Linked DNA regions of Homo sapiens. The protein of the gene in region 3 purifies or fractionates together with the protein of the main gene of each other region. This does not show direct contact. Each region holds a gene or a part of one and is shown on either strand. Other genes may lie near its edges.

Region 1 (5,176 bases), on a different chromosome or scaffold from region 3:
GAGGCCAAGGCGGGTGGATCACCTGAGGTCAGGAGTTTGAGACCAGCCTGGCCAATATGGTGAAACCCCATCTCTACTAAAAATACAAAAATCAGCTGGGCGTGGTGGTGCACACCTATAATCCCATCTACTCGGGAGGCTGAGGCAAGAGAATCGCTTGAGCGTGGGAGGCGGAGGTTGCAGTGAGCCGAGACTGTGCCACTGCACTGTAGCCTGGGCCACAGAGCGAGGCTCCATCTCAAAACAAAACAAACAAAAAACAAGAGAAACGAGAGGTTACAAATTGGTTGATGCTGACCTGAAGTATTTCAATATAAAAAAATGTCGCCTATCTAAAAAAAATGGAGTGTAAAGTCCTTTGGGGGGGCCCCCATGATTTTGGTTAACTTTTTTAAGAAACCTGGGCCCCCGGCTCCCCCAAAGGCTGGAGCAACTGCCTTTTCAGTCGGGCAGGCATCTCCTGGTTCCGCTCGTCTGTGCCGTCCTGTCTGCCTCTCACCACCAGAGCCCTGCTCAGGGTCTTGCAGGCAGTGGAATTGTGAGCCTGGATAGTGGGCGGCAGTGCCGTTGTAAAGCCTCCTGACTGGGTTTGGAATGCTGTTTGGGTAAACACTTTTCCTTTCTCAGGAAATGCTGTCTATGATTTCTTCATTGGCCGTGAATTAAACCCTCGAATTGGTACTTTTGATCTCAAATACTTTTGTGAATTGCGCCCCGGATTGATTGGATGGGTATGTCTGGTTTTTTTTCTTCTAAATTTCAATTCAATAGGTCTAATTAACTGCTAGAAAGAAATGTAGACCATTCAAAAATAAGCAGTGGGTGGTATATTTTTAGGGATAATTATGGCTTTCCATAAATCTATCAAAATACTTTCTTGTAAGTATTTTCCAGAGGTTTAAGATGCCCTGTTACAGGTTATGACAAATTAAATAACTTTTCTTTGCTTTATTTTTATTATATCAGTTTATATTTATGTAGGAAAGTGATAGTGTGGATGAATTAATGTAAGAAAAAATGCATTTTCCTCCTTTTTAAATTTTACCTAGTTTTAGGCTTGGAGTTGCAGATAGAGAGCAAAGAGTTCCCTTCCACCCTTCATTCTGTTTCTCACAACATTAACCTTGGAGGAAACCGTAGTGTAGTGATGAAGAACAGCAGATTAACATAGTGACAGCATTGGTTACCAAGTCCACAGGCCTCAGTCGAGTTCACCAGTTTTTCCGCTGTTGTCCTTTTTCTGTTCCAGGAACCTCGACAGGACTCCACAATACATTTAGTTGTTATTCCTTCTTAGTCTTCTCTAGTCTAATAGTTGTTTAGGCTTTCCTTGTCTCTCATGACCTTGATACTTTTTGGAAGGTACTGGTTGGTTATTTTGTAAGTGTCCCTCAGTTTGGGTCATTCCAGTGTTCTCTTTGATTGCGGTAAAGTTACCCACTGTGACAGGAACACAGAAATGATAGCTGTGTCCTTCTCAGTGCATTGGGTCCAGGGGCCCATGGTGCTGAGATGTCTTATTCCTGGTGGCGGGTAGGAGTTACGGTGGCGTCTGCCAGGTGTCTCAGCTGTGAAGCTCACTCATGCCTTTGTAGTGCTAAGGTCTCTGGGGAGGTGCTTTGAGGCTATATACTTTCCCCTTTTGTTTCAGGTGGTTATTAACTTGGTGATGCTTTTGGCTGAAATGAAAATACAGGACCGCGCTGTTCCATCCTTGGCCATGATTTTAGTTAATAGTTTCCAGCTTCTCTATGTGGTGGATGCTCTCTGGAATGAGGTAATTAATTTTAAGAGCCGAGGCCTTGGAGTCAGATGGCTTTGAGTGGGTGAGTGACCTGTCAGAGCCTCGGCTTCTTGCACACAAAGTGAGGGGAGCATGGCCTGCCTCCAAGGCTGCTTGAGAGGAGGACGAGGCCATCCATGTGAAGCTGACGAGGGAGCACTGACAGGTGGGAAGTTTCTAGGCATTTGGGAGTGCTTCAGTGTTTATCAGCTGTTCTTGTGTTTAAAAGTAATATTCTAAATATTTAAGATTGGTGGATCTTGGTTTTGTTTTTGTGGGTGGTGGTAATTATGGTATCACATGAAAATGGATGGATTATTACTAAATTAGAATGGTGTTTCTTGGACTGTCAAGAGTCACCTAGTTTTTAAATAATGGGGGAGATGTTTTATTGTTAATGTTTTAAAATACAAAGACTAGCTCTAATTAGATGAATGTAAAATCAGAAATCAAGATGCATTGAGGAAACCAGTTGAAATAAGGCTAAGTTTCCATCTTGTGTCTTTTTTCATACATTGATTAGTCTTTCTACTAGTTGAAGACTGGTAAATGTTTTGTTTGTTTTCTCTGTCTCAGCCAGCATATTCCTTTTAAAAATTTTGTCTTCCTCAGGCTTATTTTACAAGTATTTTATCGTATTTACTGTTATCTTTGTAATTATCTCCAAATTCCAACTCTAGTTTTCTTTCCATATTAAAAACAAATCTGGCAGCTGTACATCATAATGTTCCAAAACAAGTTTTAGTGACAGTCTGTTGAGACAATCTGCTGACATTTTGAGAGAAGACCTTTTCTCTTTGAGCCTGGAACATTAAAAAAAATTATATTATTTGGTCATCAATACTATGTATCTCCCCCACCCCTGCTGGCTGGTCTTTAATTTTGGCCTTCTATGCAAAATTGCAGAGAACATTTAGTCAGAACAACTTCGCAAGTTTGATATTGGTGTTTCGATGATCTCCTTGTTATTTAGGAAGATTAGGGCCACTTTGAGGTAAACCTCAATTACAAGCGGTGGGATTAGTGCTATCCGCTAATTACGGGTTCCTGTTGCGCTCCTACCACTTCACAGACCCTGGCTCAGAGCTTGGGAAGCTGTGAAGGTGGTGATAACACTTCAAATTGACTTTAAAAATTCCACGTCGACCCAAAATTAAACATGTTTTTGAAATTAAAAAACAACTGTTTTGTAAATGCACTTACTGTTACCAGTGTAGCTTTGTTTGCTGTTATAGAATGAATCGCCAAAAGAGCATATAGGTTACAGTTTGCAAATCAAATGATATTTCACAGTTGTGCTCACCTCAGAGGCTTCTTTAAACCTTCCTTTCTAGTAGCTTTCCACTGATCAGTGATTATTTCTTCTGGTTTCTTCTATTACTAGCTTTCTGCCATGTTGTGGTTGTCACTTTTTAATTGGCTTAGAAGTTGATATTTTCTATAGATTTAGCCAAACATTGACTTGTGTTAAAAGAAAATTTTTTGCATCTTAAGGCAAAACGCTTAATGCAATATTAACATAGCCCCAGGGGTAGAGAACTAGAGTTAGGAAATTGTTTTCTGTCTGTTCTCAGTATCTCAGCCAGATGATAATAAGCTTCTTGAGGAAAGATTGTATTTTATGATTTCTTCAGCATTCTGGCATGCCACTGGGCAATTAGCAGATGCTTAATAACTTCTGTCAGGTCACTTGATAGAAATCCCTCTGTATTCAAGAATGTGCTATACCTTAAGAAAACTGAGACTACCTGTTTAAATATGCATGACCCTTCCTCTGAGCCGTCCTGTGAAAGCCTTGGGGCTCAGGAGCTGGTGGGGCTAAGGTCCTCCCCCTACCCGGCATTGGGTGCTTACCCTTTGCCCTCTCACTGCCACTCACCACACCTGCTTTTATCTGCTCCCACCAATTTGTCACCTTTATCCTCTTTTGGACCAGGAATCAGATCACAGGCCTTGAGAGAGAAGAATAAGACACTCTTGGGGACAGAAAGTTAAAACACCGTGTGTCCTCACTTATATGTGGGCGCTAAAAAAGTTGATGTCATAGAAGTATAAAGTAGAACAGAGGATATGGGAAGGTGGGAAGGGTAGGGGGAAGGGAAGGATAGGGAGAGGTTTGTTAAAGGATACAAAATTACCACTCGATAGGAGGAGTAAGTTCTAAGTTCTAGTATTCTATACCACTGTAGGATGACTATAGTTAACAGTGATACATAGTTTCAAATAGCTAGAAGGATATTGAATATTCCTAACACAAAGAAAGAATGTGTTTGAGATGATGGATATGCTAATTACCTTGATTGGATTACTATATATTACATGTATTGCAACATCACTGTGTACCCCATAAATATGTACGATTATTACATGTCAATTTTTTTTTTTAAAGAGAATAAAGTACTCTGGTTAACTAAAGAGTATAAGCCTAAGGAGCTAGATTTTGTGAGATTGGTTTTTCTGTTTCATGTGACATCTGTTTTTCTGTTCCATGGCCTATTTGCTTTCTTTTCTGGAAAAAAATGCTATTTAGAGGTACCACTCTTTTTCTTTAACCTAGAACTTTGATTCTCCAACAGAGCTTATACTGGCTAATATTTCTACATCAGTGGTCTGTACTGAGGTTCTGGGTAGTTTAGAGATTCCCTTAGGCCAGACCTTCAGAGTGTTGACCTTGGTGGTGGTTCCGTATTCTAGAGTCTGGCCTGCCCGTATCCTGGGCCAGAGGCGATCTGGCTCATGCTAACCAAATCACCAGGGAGTAATGCACTTTTATTAATTTACATGAGAAGCGAAGCTGTCAGTTCACCATGTTGCCAGGCAGCTTAATTTCTTCTGTGGAAAATGCACATGAAATGCCAGATTATGAACAGAAATTAGATTGGTCCATGTGGAATTGAAACAAAAAGAGTTGGTGATCTTATTCCTTCAGCAAGCATATTTTGAACACTTCTCTCCATGGCGGGCACTGTGCTAGGTACTGGGGTGGCAAAGGTGAAAACACACAGCCTCTGTCTTTTAGAGGCTTTTAGTGTAGTGAAGAGTGACTAGACAAGTACAGTAACCCAATTACTGCAGCCTACTGGTGGGTGGTGATATCTGAGAAGTGCCCAGGTCTGAGCAGCAGGTCAGGAGGGCAGCAGAGGGTGTAGGGCCTATGTGGAGGTTGGAGGAGGGGTTGTCAGCAGAGGGGAGGGCCTGGGCATGGGGGCATGGGAGATGCTTTAGAGATCTGTTATCTCCAGAGCATGAGCGAGAGGCTGGCGTGACGGGAGAATGTGACAGCAGAAAGACCTAGCAGGCCAGGGGAACCAGATCTCTCTCCCCTTTAACAAAAAAATGTTGATTGTGGACCCGCCCATAGCACTTTTTACATTTGCCTGTAAACTAGTACTT
Region 2 (5,176 bases), on a different chromosome or scaffold from region 3:
TTTTCTCTACCTGGAAACATCTTTTCCTCCATATCTCCACTTGTCCAAATTCTACTCATCCTCCATGGACTGCCCTGGATGTTGCTGCTTCTAGAATTTCCATATCTCCTCTCTCCTTATTCCCCAGGCTTCAACGGGGCCACTCTCACAGCACTCATCAGATTCTGCTCTGGATTCGATTTAGCTACCTGCATATATGCCTCATATCCTGGCTACAGTGTTGTTCCTTCAGGGTGGAGCCTACCATGGGATCCCTTTCGGACCCCACGCAGGGCCTAATACAATGCTTTGGATATAGTAGCACCAAGTAAATATTTGCTGAACGAATGGAAACACTTGAAAGCACACTGGTCTCCTTTTGTCCCAACCATCATGCCCTTGAGAAAAGGAAAGTGTCTTTTCGTAGACCCTGCAGTGCCTCGCAGACTGTTGAGCACGTACCATGTTCTGTAGGGATACTTGCTGAGCAGATATAAAGCTTTATCTGTCCTTGACTCTTGAGGAACAGCTGGGTGGGAGACCAAGAACCAGGGACGGCAAGACTCGAAAATAAGGATTGGCAGACTACATACAGCCCACGGGGTAATCTGGCCCACTGCCTGTTTTTACAAATAAAGTTTTATTGGGAAACAGCCATGTTCATTCATTCACTTATTCTCTGAGGCTGCTTTTGCACTACAACGACAGAGATGAGTAGTTGTAGTAGAAACTGTTTGGACTGCAAAGCCTCAGATATTGACCATCCAGCCCAAGCCCTTTCCAGACAAGGTTTGCAGAGCCTGCTGAAGAGCACCATCCTGCTTTGAACTCAGGAACAGTTATGGCGTTAAATCCAGGCTGCAGTTTCGCTACCTGCTAATTTGTACTTTATCAAGGTTCTGGACTCACTGTCCCACTCTTTGTCTCCAACAAAGACGTTTGTTTCCCAGAGGCCATAACTTTCCACCATGGAGCTGTGGCACCAGAACCCCACAATCTCTAACCATGACAAAAACCACGTCCTGGAGCCAGGCCCTCCCCCGTACCATGGGGGACTCTGCCCAGAGGCAGCCCCCACAGCACTGCTCACCTTGTCCACCTTGTCCAGCCAGTCTTTGTTGGCAGCCAGCTCGGCCATGAATGCCTGGTGCTTCTGCCACTTAGTATGCAGGTTGCGGGCCTCGTCATAGGACACGTCCTGGGCTGTCAGCATCTTCTCGTCGATCCAGAGCTTCAGCTGGACCAAACATAAAACAGGGACATTTCCAAGGGAGGGGAGAGGGGGGCATAAAAGCAGGGCCACAGTGAGCCAGGAGAAGTGGGCGCCTTGGGAAGAAGCCATGAAGGGGCTCACAGTCTCCGGTACCTTGTGCTGGACTTATTCTAGGCTCAAGGTGAGAAAGGGATGGCTAGGGAATATCCCGGGGCCCCAGGGAGCCTCACCTCGTGACAATCTTGCAGGAAATGCTGCTGCTCCCGGTTGTCCCGAAGACGGCCCAGAAATTGCTGCGCTGCGTCTTGATTCTTCTTGTGCCTGGAACGACACCCTCTTGTGAAACTCTGGAATTTGCTGTGAAAGGATTGTGACCCTTTGGCTAACCTAGGGGCCTCCATTTCTTCTAGGGGAATAACGCCTTCCGGGAGCACAATGAGGCTACCCAGGAATCCTGACTTCCTTTTAGCCCTGGTTGGGGGTGGAATCTCCCAGCCCTCTCCAACCACTTAGTTCTTCCCCTCTACTTCTCTGTCAGCTCCTGCCCCATCTGTGGGTTTCCTGTGCCACGTTTATCTTTGAGGTCACCCTGTTTCTCCGATTCCCCCCTGGGAACCCTAATTCATGGACTGTCCTCATCAGACCTCCTCTCAATGGAGTCTGCCTTTTCCCGAATCTTGTCGGCGTGGATGTTGCCTTCAGATACCAGCTGGCGGCCAGCCTCCAGGAGCCCGTGGATCCGTTCCCCATTGGCGTCCATGGTGCTCATGAAGTCCTCCAGTTTTTTAATGGCAGCATCAGCAGCCTGGAGTGTCCCTGGCATCTCCGTGTGAGACAGAACATATTCCTGTGTGGGAGGGATGACATTCAGCTCATTTTCCCCAGCACAATTCACCCCCCTAGGAGGGACCCACCCAGGGGCAAATCTGAGAGGTAGGGACCAACAAGCAGACAGGGAGGGTAGCCCAGAGAGCTCTGAAGACAGGGAGGCTGCCAGCCAGCATGGGAGCCTCAGAAAGTCACAGGGAAGCTGGGTGGGAAGGACCTTCCATTCCCCAGCCCAAATCCTGTTCTATCTCACTTCTAGCTCCTGATTCCATTTAACAGTTACATGACAAACTGGGCTTTCTATTTCTTCTAAAGTCAGTTTTAGTAAATTATATTCACGTCTTTTTCATTCTCATTTTTCCTTCTTTTTTCTTTTTCTTTTTTTTGAGAGAGGGTTTCATTCTGTGGCCCAGGTTGGAGTGCAGTGGCATATCATAGCTCACTGCAGCCTCAAACTCCTGGCTCCAGTGATCCACCAGCCTCAGCCTCCCCAGTAGCTGGAGCTACAGGCATGCACCACCATGTCCAGTTAATTTTTTTTTTTCATAGAGATGGGGGTCTCACTATGTTGCCCAGGCTGGTCTCAAACTCCTGAGCTCAAGTTATTCTCCTGCCTCGGCCTCCCAAAATACTGGGAGTACAAGTGTGAGCCATCCTGTCTGGCTCCCATTTTTCTTTTTAAAAAATTCTTCTATTTTCTTAAAAAAATTTTTTTGTAGAGACAAGGTCTTGCCATGTTGCCCAGGTTGGTCTGGATATTCTCAGCCTCAAGTGATCCTCCTACTTTGGCCTCCCAAAGTGCTGGAATTTCAGGTGTGAACCACTGCGCTGCCCCATTTTGCTAGCATGTCCTTCCTGCCCATCCTGCTCCTTCACATTTCCCCGGGTCCCTACTTTGCTCTTCCTCCTGCTTGGGACTTTGCCCTGGACTTTCACCTGGCTGCTGAGCACGCCCTCAGCCTGACGAGCATCCCGCAGGAATCCCTGGAAGCCGTGGGCCTGGGCCAGGCGACCTTGCCGGCTCTCCCACATTCGGCCCAGCTCCTCCCAGCCAGTTCCCAGGGCCTCCAGTCGCTGTCGTAGGAAGAGGCACTGGGGGTCAGCCTGGTCCCGGGTCACCTCCTCGCCCAGGGCTCGCAGCCGGCTATACTCGCTCTGGGCCCGCTCCACCTCTCCCCGCAGGGCTGCATGTTGGGCCAGGAGGGCCTCTGCCTCAGGCAGGGTGGCCGGCCCTTCTTCAGAGGCCACAGCAGTCTGAGTGCGGCCTAGCCAGGCCTGGAAGTCATCCAAGCTGCGCAAGAAGTCCTGCAGCCGCCGCGCCTCCCCCAGCGACTCTTCTCGACGCCGCATGGTGGCCCTGAGGTCCTCCCAGCCGGTCTGCACCTCTCTCAGCCGGGCGTTGATGGCCACTGCCTGAGCGGGATGGCCGGCAGCCAGGGCATTTGCCTCTCGAGTCAGTTCGCCCACCCGGGCGGCGATGGCCTCCAGGTCCCGCTCCGTGCCGGCCAGCTTGCGCTGCAGGGCCAGCACCCCAGCCAGATCGTTGCCTAGGCCCTGGGTGGACTCGATGACTTTGGTCTTCTCTCTCATCCAGGCCTGGGTCTCCGTGCACTCTAAGTGGTAGTTCTGGATGCTCAGGGCTGAGGTGAGAGCTGCCTTCTTGCCGTCTGCCAGACGCCGAAACTGCTGCCACCTGAGAGCAGGGGGAAGGTTCAGCTTCCTGCCCTGGCCAGGCCTGTTTGGAAGCTTCTTCCCTGCTTCTCTCTCTCTTGGTAGCTCCCCTTCACTCCTCCCTTTCTGGCCAGCAGCCGCTTCAGACCACCTTGACCCCCTCTCTCATCTCTTTCATCCTTTTTCCTTCCCCAACATATTCCAGACTGGTTTGCTTCCTCCTTTGTAGCCACCCTTCCAGGCCCTACAAAACCTGCCTCTCACTGCCATCCCCATTGCTTCATTTTTCTGTCAGTTTCCTGGTCCTGCCCTCCCAAACCCACCTGTGGTTGAGCTGCTCCTGGGTGTTGACAATGCGGTCTTTGCCTGGGGGGTTGGCCTTCAGTAACTGCTCGGCAATGTCATTCACCGCGGTGATTTGTGCTGCAAGGGTGTTCATTTCAGGCTCCAGGGTCTCGAACCTGAGAGGGTGGAAGAGCCAGGCGTGAATTGTGGGAGGCAGCGATGTGCCCAGTCCACCTAAGTCCACCTCTCTTAAACACCCAGGAGGGTGTCTCCTTCACCAGGAGGCTTATCTGCAGGAGTCTCTCTGCCTCTCAGCCTATGAGGTTCATAGTATCTGTGCATCAAGGAAGGAACCCACAACTCCCCCAAAACAAGCAGAATAACTGTCATCGCTAGAAATGCTCAAAAGATGGTGAAAGGTAAAGGTCAGGAACAGACACACAAGTCAAACTAGACCCTGGCATGGGGCCAACCCTTTATCAGAGCTGCTCAGCCTCCTGGGACTTCCCCCTTAGCTGCCTATCTGGGTCTCATCCCACTAATATGTGTTAGAAAATGAAGTAATAACCAAAAATATTTGTCTGAGTGATGAAAATGTGAAGGATAACTTCTTCCAGGGACATTTTATGTTTTGTTTTTGAGATGGAGTCTCGCTCTGTCACCCAGGCTGGAGTGTAGTGGTGCAATCTCGACTCACTGCAACCTCCGCCTCCCGGGTTCAAGCAATTTTCTGCCTCCGCTTCCCGAATAGCTGGGATTACAGGTGCCCGCCACCAAGCCTAGCTAATTTTTGTATTTTTGGTGGAGACGGGTGTTTCACTATCTTGGCCAGGCTGGTCTTGAACTCCTGACCTCATGCTCCACCCGCCTTGGCCTCCCAAAGTGCTGGGATTACAGGCGTGAGCCACCTCGCCTGGCCGACATTTGATGTTCTAATAGGGCAGGGTCTGCAAATGTTTTCTGTGAAGGGCTTGATGGTAAATATTATAGGCTTCGTGAGCCATGCAGCTGCTGCGGCAACTATTCAGCCCTGCTGCTGTAGCCTGAAAGCAGCCACGGGCAATACGCAAAAGGGCGAGTGTAGCTCTGTTCCAGTAAAACTTTATTTACAGACCGGGCATGGTGGCTCACGCCTGTAATCCCAGCACTTTGGGAGGCTGAGATGGGTGGATCACAAGGTCAGGAGATCGAGACCATCCT
Region 3 (4,729 bases):
GAATTCAGCTACAAATGAACACTATTTCACTTGATATTAAAATTTAACCATATTATTTTTATAAAATAAATGGCAATAAAATGCTTTATTCTGAATATAAATGATGTACCAATGTCTCTGATTTTAACCAGAATAAACACCCCTGTTTCAAATTCTGATAAGCAGGTAATTTATTTAAGATCACGTTGAAATGACCCTAGAAGTGAAGGGCATTTGAGTTTCCAGCTTTCCCACTTTATCTAAAAGGGGAAAAACGGTGTCTGGCACTCAGCTTTTCGAATGTGCAAAACTGATAAACTAGTCTGTTAGGGGAAAAAAAAAAGACAATGAAGAAATAAAAGTGGAAATTAGCAGAAACCAGTATTAGGCATATGTCTTTATGAATAAGACTTAACCATACACTTGATTTTGCAAGTACAGAAGGCCCTGTGGAATGTATTAATCAGAGTTAAACGCTGTAGACAGGCGCGTTGCAGGGCGGCGGCCCTCTCCCCTTGGCATTACCGACAGCCGAGGAAATTGGGTTAATAAAGCCGGATACTGCGGCGGGGCCGCGGGGCGCAAACCGGCGCGGACAGATGGGTCCCCGGGGGCACCCTGCCCGGCTCCCTGGATCCCGGATGGTGGCAGAGCTGGGAGCTGCGCAGGACGGGCACTGCGCAGCGCATCTCCGTTCACACCCGGCGGGGCACGGGGCCCGCAGCAGCTTACTCACCCGTAGCCCGGCCTCCTCCCTCGGAAGGGAGAGGGGATCGGTGGGGAGGGGGTTTGCTGGACACCAGGGCTAGACGGGGCCCTCCCCTGACCGTCAGGGTTAAGTAGGGCGCGGGCTGTGAGGACCCTCCTCCACGCAGCCCCCCGAGGCAGAGGGCCCGCAAAGCGGTCTCCATCCAACTCCACCCCGCGGACGTCCCAGGCAGCGGATGGCGGCGGGGGGGGGAGGCCAGGGGACATTTAGGGGACAAATTCCTCAGACTTCGAGGCAGCCGGCGACGGCGTCCAATTCCCAAATAAATAGAACAAACTCCTACTTGGAAAAGGCCTTCCCCGGGGTCTTCCTGCGCCCGCGGTCCAGCTCCTCTGCAGACGGCCATCGTGGGCTCTCCGCAGGGCTGCGGAGTCTCGGAGTCACCGAGGTGGGAGGTGCCGGCCACGCGCGTCCTCAGGAACAGAGCACTGCCCTGCAGTTTAGCACGAAGGGCCGGCTGGAGCGGGAGCGCGAGGCCCACTGCAAGAGGATCAGGAGCCAGTAAGTCCGGCTTTTCTTCGTCTCCACCTTTCGTGCGCCCGGGGCCAGGACCGCCTGTCCGGAATCTGACCAGTGCCCGTCCTCGCCGTGGCCCTGGGACCCCGCGGTGGTCTTCTTTTGGGGACGAACGGCAGTGCCCGAAGGATGCTCTACCCACCCCCGTTCCTAGACTTGCTGGGTCCCGACAATACCCAGTGGGTGCCGCGAGTTCCCGGGCGCAGAGTCCAGCGTCCGGCTCTCGAGCTCAATCCCGCGCCCCGACGGCCTTGGCGCTTCCCGCTGCGCTAAACTGTCCACCGCGCACAGGCTGGAAGCGAAGTCGGGCCCCCTCCTCCTGGTCTGCAGGGTCCCTCCAGGCCTTTCCTGTCCGGGCAGAGAGACAGTCACAGGGGCGATCGGAGGACGCGTGCGGGAGGGCCGGGGGCCCGCGCGGTCACGGCTTCTCGTGACAGTGTTTGCAAAGCGCGGAGGGCGTCCCGGAGAAGGCGGCGCACTTGTCAGGGCAGGGCCCCAGGGCGGCGCCTGCGGAGAAGGGGCACACAGTGGCCTGGCCGAAGGGCGTCAAGGGCGCGGCGTTTACGGGCGCGGCCAGGCCCTGGCCCTGGTTGAGGAAGGCCACCAGGCGCCGCATCTCGTCCAGGGCCTGCGCCTGCATGAGGATATAGTTCTTGGCGAGCAGCAGCGTGGCGATCTTGGAGAGCTTGCGCACCGACGGGCTGTGCGCGTAGGGGATGACGGCTCGCAGCCCGTCCAGCGCGTCGTTTAGGTCGTGCATGCGCCGCCGCTCGCGCGCGTTGATGCTGAGCCGCAGAGACCGCTGCTCTCGCGGCCGCCGCCGCCCGTCCGCCGCGCTCCCTGGCCCGCGCCGCCGCCGCCGCTGCTCGAAGGCGTCGTCCTCGTCCCCGCTCTGTTCGCCGCTGCTCTCCGCCGCCTGAGCTGGGGCGCGAGGTGCAGGCGCCGCGGGGAGGTCGCCGCCCGGGCCCGGAGTGCCGTAGCCGCGGGCCGCTTCGGGTTCTCGCGCCGCCCCGTAGGCGAGACCCGCAGCCGCCGCCGCGTAGCCGTGGCTTAGTGCCAGGTACGCGTCCCCCGACAGCGACTTGAGCTCGGCCATGGCCGCGCCGCCTGGGCTCGGGGGCTCGCCGGGTGGGCGGATGCTCATGTGGGTGAGCAGCCCCCGAGGCCGGCCCGAGCCCGCCGCTGCCGCTGCCGCTGCGATGAGGCTCCCGGCTCTGCGCGTCGGTCTGGCTTGCCTGCGGGTCCCAGAGCCTCGGCGCCCGCTGCCTCCTCCGCCTCTTCCTTCTCTCCCACCTCCTCTCCCTCCCAGCCGCGACGCGCAGGGGGCGGGCTCTACCTCCCCCTCGCCCCCGCTTCGGTTTTAAGCCGCGGAGGCGCCCGGTGGGACCTCGCTGCTGTCCAATCAGGGGGGACCGGGTGAGCTCCTCTTCCTGGAGCCGGGCTCCACCAGCGCCGCAGGCTCACAGGCCGGGGGTGGGGGCTCTGGACCGAGGGGCGGCGCGGGGCGGCGCGGGGCGGCGCGCGCGGTCCTGGAGCGCTAGTACTTGCTTCTCGACTCCCCGGCCGCCGCCTCCGGCCGCCCCGGGGATTCCGCCACCAAACGCACGCGTCCCAGGTGGGCACCCGCCTCGGTCCGTCTTTGAGTCTGACCCTAGCGCAAGAGTCCCTGGCGACACGCAGGGGCCAGAGCGGGGGGGCGCGCCGCAATAGCAGCAGCGCCAGCGCCAACACCCTGTCCCGCTGAGGGGCCGCTTCGGGTCGGGGTCAGGGTCGTGGGCGCTCTGGTGCAGCCGCGGCGCAGCGTGTACCCGGAGCCCGCACACTCCCTGCTCGGGGCGCCCTGTGGCCAGGCTTGAGGGGCAGAGTGAGAGGGAGTTTCTAGAACCTGTTGAAAAACGCCACGAGCGTTGCAGGCCGGGGAGGGCGGGAAGGTGGAGGGCAGCGCGGCCTGGGGCTCCCCGGGGGTGGGAGGGGAGCTCTGTGAGCTGCAGGACCGCCTCTTCCCTGCCAGCCGCTTCCTGGGCATCTATCAGCGAAACGCGTGAGGCTTGGTGGGCTTTCCCGGAGCCTCCGAACCCCTGGGGTCCAGCCACACTGGATGGGAATGTGGCCAGCCTCGGACTCGCCTTTTCAGTCCTCTTCCAACCCCGCATGAAGGCCAGAACCCCAGCCCTTCTCCCAGGTGGGAACCTGCCTGGAGGCCCGGCCGAGTGCTGAGGCTAGAGTGTGCTGAGGGATAGTGGCTTCTCCGGTCCTGGCTTGGGTGGGAGACTGGGCCACCCTGGCCTATGGCACGAGGTGGAGCGGCCCGTCGGGCCCTTCTGTGTGACCTGGGAAGGGCCGCATACCCTCCCTGTTCTCCAGGCTCCGCCCCAGGAGGAGCCACAGCGATGGGGCAGTGTGCGCAGCCCCGGGAGGGGAGTGGGAGCTGCACGTGTGTGGGGCGGATGTGCTGTCTGGAAGGTTCTGGGAACGCAGCAGTGACCGGCCTGTCCGGTGGTTCCCTGCCAGGTGCGGGGTGTGAGGAGACAGATGCATGGATAAGTCTCCGTGGGAAACTCAGGCCTTTGTCCTGGCGGAGGGGAATGGGTCTGAGGCAGCCTCTGCCGGGCTGGCGGCCTGTCTGGCTGCGCGTCCTGCAGCACCGGCCTCACCCCCAGCACACGCCCGCCAGGAGCGCAGGGGCCCCGAGGATGGAAGCGTCTGTCTGAGGCGCTGTCCTGGGACCCCACCCCGCCTTCGGGGCTGATGCACAGACCGGGAATTGAGGATACCTGGTGTGGAGGAGGCCGCTGTGTTTGGGCCTGGGTCTGAAGGGTGAGTGGGTGTCATTGTGGCCACGGGCCGGGGTCGGGGGAGCATTCAGGTGGCCGGAGGAGGCCTGGCACAGGGAAGGGCAGTGAGGGGCCCGGGTGGGGCCAGGAGATAGAGGGGCGGGACCAGGCCTGTGGGACAGTTTGAATCACGCGGGGAGTTTGGTCTTTATGGGAAGAAAGGCGCCGTGGCCATTCGGAGAGCCACTCTGGCACTGCTGCCGGTGCGGTCCGGGGCTGCGGGGCCTCCTCCTGGGCCTGAACTGCAGGGCTGGTGGGGGCCATGGGGGAAGGTGGCTCCACAGGTCCCCGGAGCTGGGGGAGCAGGAGGATGGGGTTGACCAGGAGGGAAAGCTATGGAGCTGGAGAATGCAGGAGGCCCCCGAGGGGAGGTGCAGCCAGCGCTGGTGGGGAGGCCTCTGAGGGGTACGCGGTAATTGACATCACGGGTGTGGGTGAGAGTGGCTTTCAAAGCATCGGCTGGAGCAGGGTCCCCATTAAAGCCAGAGACGCTGACGCCATGGGGCTGGGGTTGGGGCTGGGCCGGGGCTTTGGGAGGTCCGAACTCCCCAGCAGGGAGCCAGGGCTCTGGGCCAGTTCCCAGGCCCAGTTAATCTTCAGTAGAATCGATCGACCTTGGCTCAGAGGGTTG
Region 4 (5,176 bases), on a different chromosome or scaffold from region 3:
ACGTCTGTCCCTCCACTACATTTCAGGTATACAGGGGGAGGCTGGCTAATTTCCCACCATCCTATCCTGAGGTCCTAGTATGCGGTAAGGGGGGCTCCATCAGTGTGAAGGGAGACAATTCAAAGTAGTGGAAATACGTCCAACCTTCCTTCTTAGCATTCCGTACTTAAAGTTTTTAAATGTCGGCCGGGTGCGGTGGCTCACGCCTGTGGTCCCAGCACTTTGGGAGGCTGAGGCGGGCGGATCGCGAGGTCAGGAGATCGAGACCATCCTGGCAAACACGATGAAGCCCCGTCTCTACTAAAAATACAACAACAACAACAAAAATTAGCCGGGCGTGGTGGCAGGCACCTGTAGTCCCAGCTACTGTGGAGGCTGAGGCAGGAAAATGGTGTGAACCTGGGAGGCGGAGCTTGCAGTAAGCCGAGATTGGGCCACTGCACTCCAGCCTGGGCGACAGAGCGAGACTCCATCTCAAAAAAAAAAAAAAAAAAAAAAAAAAAAGTTTTTAAATGTCTTAGAGTCTTGAAGAAGGAACAGAGGTTTTCTCTGGGCTGGGATGGTACAATGCTACCAGAAAAACCCCATCTTCACCCCGCCCTTCTGAGGTGGCTCATAGGCAAGGAGCCAGGATGTGTGACACTCTGTCTTGACCAACCAGAGATTCTTTCTCATCTCCTAACAGAAGTTATTTCAGAGATACACAACGAGCTGTATGTATTCTGGGAACAGGCTCTGCCATTTTCTTCCCTTAACGACAGGGTCCAAAATAAATCTCCAAGGCTCCTTTGGACTCTGAGCTATCATGTCTCTTGTGTGAATCCAAGTGATGAAATCTGCGTATTTCACTATAAAACTCAAGTTCTTAGAGATCAGAACATAATGTTTTTTGTTTTTTTTTTGAGATGGAGTCTTACTCTATAGCCCAGGCTGGAATGCAATGGCATGATCTCGGCTCACTGCAACCTCTGCCTCCTGGGTTTAAGCAATTCTTCTGCCCCAGCCTCCCGAGTACCTAAGATTACAGGCTCACACCAACACACCTGGCTAATTTTTCGGTAGAGACGGGGTTTCACCATGTTGGTCAGGCTGGTCTCGAACTCCTGACCTCAGGTGATTCGCCCACCTCGGCCTCCCAAAGTGCTGGGATTATAGGCATCAGCCACCACGCCCGGCCAAAACATAAGGTTTTTAAAAATTAAAGAAATGTGAAAACACCCCAAGACTCCTCAGCTTTCTCCAGAAACAGATGAACATACCCTCAACTGATCAAGCTTCTCTCGGATCTGAATGAACCCCAAGTGTAACTTGCCACCGAAGTGGTCTGCCAGGCGACGGTCATTGTCATGGAGACCAAGGTAGGCTGAACAGACCTCGCAGACACGCAGCTTTTGCTGCTGAAAACTGGATGCAGGCATGGAATTTCTGTATTCTTCCTGAAGAAGGAAAATGGAGAAATAAAAGTGAGGTATATAGAACTGCCACCACAAATTCAATCTCCAAAATGAAAATATTTGATAAGATGACAGAGGTGACTTTTAAACAAATATTAAAAAAACACAAACAAAACTTCAGATATTTATAACCAACTCAATTTTCACTGTTTATTTAAGAAACGCGGCCAGGCACGGTCCCAGCACTTTGTGAGGCCAGGTGGGCGGACCATGTGGTCAAGAGATCAAGACCAGGCCAGGCGCGGTGGCTCACGCCTGTAATCCCAGCACTTTGGGAGGCTGAGGCTGGCGGATCACCTGAGGTCCGGAGTTCAAGATCAGCCTGACCAACATGGAGAAACCCCATCTCTATTAAAAATACAAAAGTAGCCGGGTGTGGTGGCGCATGCCTGTAATCCCAGCTATTCTGGAGGCTGAGGCAGGAGAATGGCTTGAACTCGGGAGGCGGAGGTTGCTGTTGAGCTGAGATCGCACAGGCAACAAGAGCAAAACCCTGTCTCAAAAAAAAAAAAAAAAAAAAAAAGAGAGATCGAGACCATCCTGGCCAACTTTGTGAAACCCCGTCTCTACTAAAAATACAAAAATCAGCTGGGTGTGGTGGCACATGCCTGTAGTCCCAGCTACTCAGGAGGCTGAGGCAGGAGAATCACTTGAACCTGGGAAGCGGAGGTTGCAGTGAGCCAAAACCGTGCCACTGCATTCCAGCCTGGCAACAGAGCGAGACTCCATCTTAAAAAAAAAAGGTACTAACAGGCTGGGCTCAGTGGCTCACGCCTGTAATCCCAGCATTCCGAGGCCAAGGCAGACAGATCACTTGAGGCCAGGAGTTCAAGACGAGCCTGGCAACATAGCAAAACCCTGTCTCTACTAAAAATACAAAAATTGGCCGGGCGCGGTGGCTCACGCCTGTAATCCCAGCACTTTGGGAGGCTGAGGCAGGCGAATCATGGGGTCAGGAGATCACGACCATCCTGGCTAACACGGTGAAACCCCGTCTCTACTAAAAAAACAGAAAAAATTAGCTGGGCGTGGTGGCGGGCGCCTGTAGTCCCAGCTACTCAGGAGGCTGAGGCAGGAGAATGGCGTGAACCCGGCAGGCGGAGCTTGTAGTGAGCCAAGATCATGCCACTGGGCGAAAGAGCGAGACTCCGTCTCAAAAGAAAAAAAAAAAAAAAAAGCCAGATGGTGGCAGGCATCTGTAATTCCAGCTACTGGAGAGGCTGAGGCACAAATTGTTTAAGCCCAGGAGGTGGAGGTTGCAGTGAGCTGAGATCACACCACTGCATTCCAACCTGGAGGACAGAGGAAAACTCCAAAAAGGAAAAAAAAAAAATTGTATTCCAGGCCTGGTGTAGTGACTCACACCTATAATCTCAGCACTTTAGGAGAGTGAAGCAAGAAGATCACTTGGCCCCAGGAGATTGAGATCACCCTGAGCAACACAGCAAGACTCAGTCTCTAAAAATAAGAAAATAATTAGCCCGCTGTGGTGGCACGTGCCTATAGTCCCACCTACTCAAGAGACTGATTCGAGAGGACTGCTTGAGCCCAGGAGGTTGAAGGGGCAGTGACCTGTGACTGCGCCACTGTACTTCAGCCTGGGTGACCCTGGCTGACAGCAGGACCCTCTAATATTAAAAAAAATAGGCTGGGCACAGTGGCTAACACCTGCAATCCCAGCACTTTGGGAGGCCAAGGCAGGTGGATCACAAGGTCAGGAGTCCGAGAAGGTGAAACCCCGTCTCTATTAAAAATACAAAAAAATTAGCTGGGCACGGTGGCTGGCACCTGTAATCCCAGCTACTCGGGAGGCTGAGTCTGAGAATTACTTGAACCCGGGAGTCAGAGGATGCAGTGAGCCGAGATCGCACCACAGCAATCCAGCCTGGGCGACAGAGCGAGACTCTGTCTGAGAAAAAAAAAAAAAAAAAAGTAGACAAGGAACTAGCAAGAACTTGAATTTCCATTATAGTATGCTACATAACTAAAAAAAAAAAAAAAAAAAAAAAACTTAAGCAAAAACAATATTGTGGTACACAAATATTCATAACATTACTCTGTCCCCTTCTATAGTTTTGAAACCTTAAATGCCACCTTCTAACATCTTTCAAAATAAACTCTGATTATGTTGAGTAAAAAAAGTCAGTCCCAAAAGGTTACCTACTGTATGATTCCATTTACATAACTTTTTTTTTTTTTTTGAGACGGAGTCTCGCTCTGTCGCCCAGCCTGGAATGCAGTGGCACGATCTCAGCTCACTACAAGCTCTGCCTCCCGGGTCCACACCATTCACCTGCCTCAGCCTCCTGAGTAGCTGGGACTACAAGCGCACGCCGCCACGCCCGGCCAATTTTTTGTATTTTTAGTAGAGACGGAGTATCACCATGTTAGCCAGGATGGTCTCGATCTCCTGACCTCGTGATCCACCCGCCTCAGCCTCCCAAAGTGATGGGATTACAGGCGTGAGCCACCGCACCAGGCTTTTTTTTTTTTTTTTTTTTTTTTGAGAGAGAGTCTTGCTCTGTCACCCATATTGGAGTGCAATGGCACGATCTCTGTTCGCTGCAACCTCCGCCTTCTGGGTTCAAGCGATTCTCCTACTTCAGCCTCCCAAGTAGCTGGGATTACAGGTGCCCGCCACCACACCTGGCTAATTTTTATACTTTTAGTAGAAATGGGGTTTCACCAAGTTGGCCAGGCTGGTCTCGAACTCCTGACCTCAGGTGATGCACCTACCTTGGCCTCCCAAAGTGCTGGGATTACAGGCATGAGCAACCGTGCCCGGCCATATTTTTAATTTCTTTGTAAAGATGGGGTATCCCTATGTTGCCCAGGCTGGTCTCAAACTCCTGGACTCAAGCAATCCTCCTGCCTCGACCTTCCAAAGTGTTGAGATTACAGGCATGAGCCACCATACCCACCCTCCATAAGCTTTTACGCTGGGCAGAAGGCAGCAAAAGGGGAGTCAGCATATCACATGGCAAAAGAAGGAGTGAGACAGAGAGAAGGACCTAGGCTCCTTTAAACAATCAGCTCTGAGGTGAACTCACTATCCCAGGGAGGGCACCAAGCCATTGATGAGTGAACCACCCCCATGACCCAAACACCTCCCACTAGACCCCACCTCCAACATTGGAGGTCACATTTCAACATGAGATTTGGACGTGCCACACATCCAAACCGTATCAAGTGTTATTTTTTATCTTTTATACTGTATTTTTACTGTACCTTTTCTATGTTTACGTACACAAATATTTAGGGGCCCACTGTGTTGCAACTGCCTATAGTATTCAGCACAGTAACATGCTGTACAGGTGTGGAGCCTAGGAGCAATGGGCTCTACCATACAGCCCACATGGCTATACCACCCAGGTTTGTTAAGCACACTCTATAATGTTCTCACAATGATGAACCATGGAACGCACTTCTCAGAATATTTAATCCTTGTCATTAAGAAAGATATGACTGTACTAATATCAGAAATGAAAGACAGGACATCATTACGGATCCACCCACTTTAAAGGAATAATACAAACAACTCTTAAAAACAACAACTCCATGCCCACAAAAGCGATAAACTAGATGAAATGGACCGATCCCTTCAAAGACAGCCAGGAGCAGTGGCTCACGCCTGTAATCCCAGCACTGTGGGAGGCTGAGGCAGGTGGATCACTTGAGGTCAGGAGTTTGAGACCAGCCTGACCGACATGGTGAAACCCCGT

What was found. The genes of interacting proteins can lie anywhere in the genome.
Region 1: the proteins of BHLHE23 (region 3) and LBR purify together in Homo sapiens (affinity purification with mass spectrometry; one large-scale study listed by BioGRID and IntAct). This does not show direct contact.
Region 2: the proteins of BHLHE23 (region 3) and SPTBN2 purify together in Homo sapiens (affinity purification with mass spectrometry; one large-scale study listed by BioGRID and IntAct). This does not show direct contact.
Region 4: the proteins of BHLHE23 (region 3) and LUC7L purify together in Homo sapiens (affinity purification with mass spectrometry; one large-scale study listed by BioGRID and IntAct). This does not show direct contact.

Annotation. Positions count from the first base shown.
Region 1 is NC_000001.11:225,406,892-225,412,067, reverse strand, and holds part of LBR (delta(14)-sterol reductase LBR), read left to right. Parts: intron 1-627; coding exon 628-731; intron 732-1,651; coding exon 1,652-1,777; intron 1,778-5,176. UniProt on the Homo sapiens protein: Catalyzes the reduction of the C14-unsaturated bond of lanosterol, as part of the metabolic pathway leading to cholesterol biosynthesis.
Region 2 is NC_000011.10:66,697,570-66,702,745, forward strand, and holds part of SPTBN2 (spectrin beta chain, non-erythrocytic 2), read right to left. Parts: intron 4,153-5,176; coding exon 4,015-4,152; intron 3,714-4,014; coding exon 2,957-3,713; intron 2,040-2,956; coding exon 1,837-2,039; intron 1,514-1,836; coding exon 1,423-1,513; intron 1,217-1,422; coding exon 1,070-1,216; intron 600-1,069; coding exon of another isoform or gene 276-599; exon of another isoform or gene 1-275. UniProt on the Homo sapiens protein: Probably plays an important role in neuronal membrane skeleton.
Region 3 is NC_000020.11:63,004,367-63,009,095, forward strand, and holds BHLHE23 (class E basic helix-loop-helix protein 23), read right to left. Parts: upstream 2,599-4,729; 5' UTR 2,409-2,598; coding exon 1,683-2,408; 3' UTR 1,561-1,682; downstream 1-1,560. UniProt on the Homo sapiens protein: May function as transcriptional repressor. May modulate the expression of genes required for the differentiation and/or maintenance of pancreatic and neuronal cell types. May be important for rod bipolar cell maturation.
Region 4 is NC_000016.10:197,803-202,978, forward strand, and holds part of LUC7L (putative RNA-binding protein Luc7-like 1), read right to left. Parts: intron 1,437-5,176; coding exon 1,260-1,436; intron 1-1,259. UniProt on the Homo sapiens protein: May bind to RNA via its Arg/Ser-rich domain.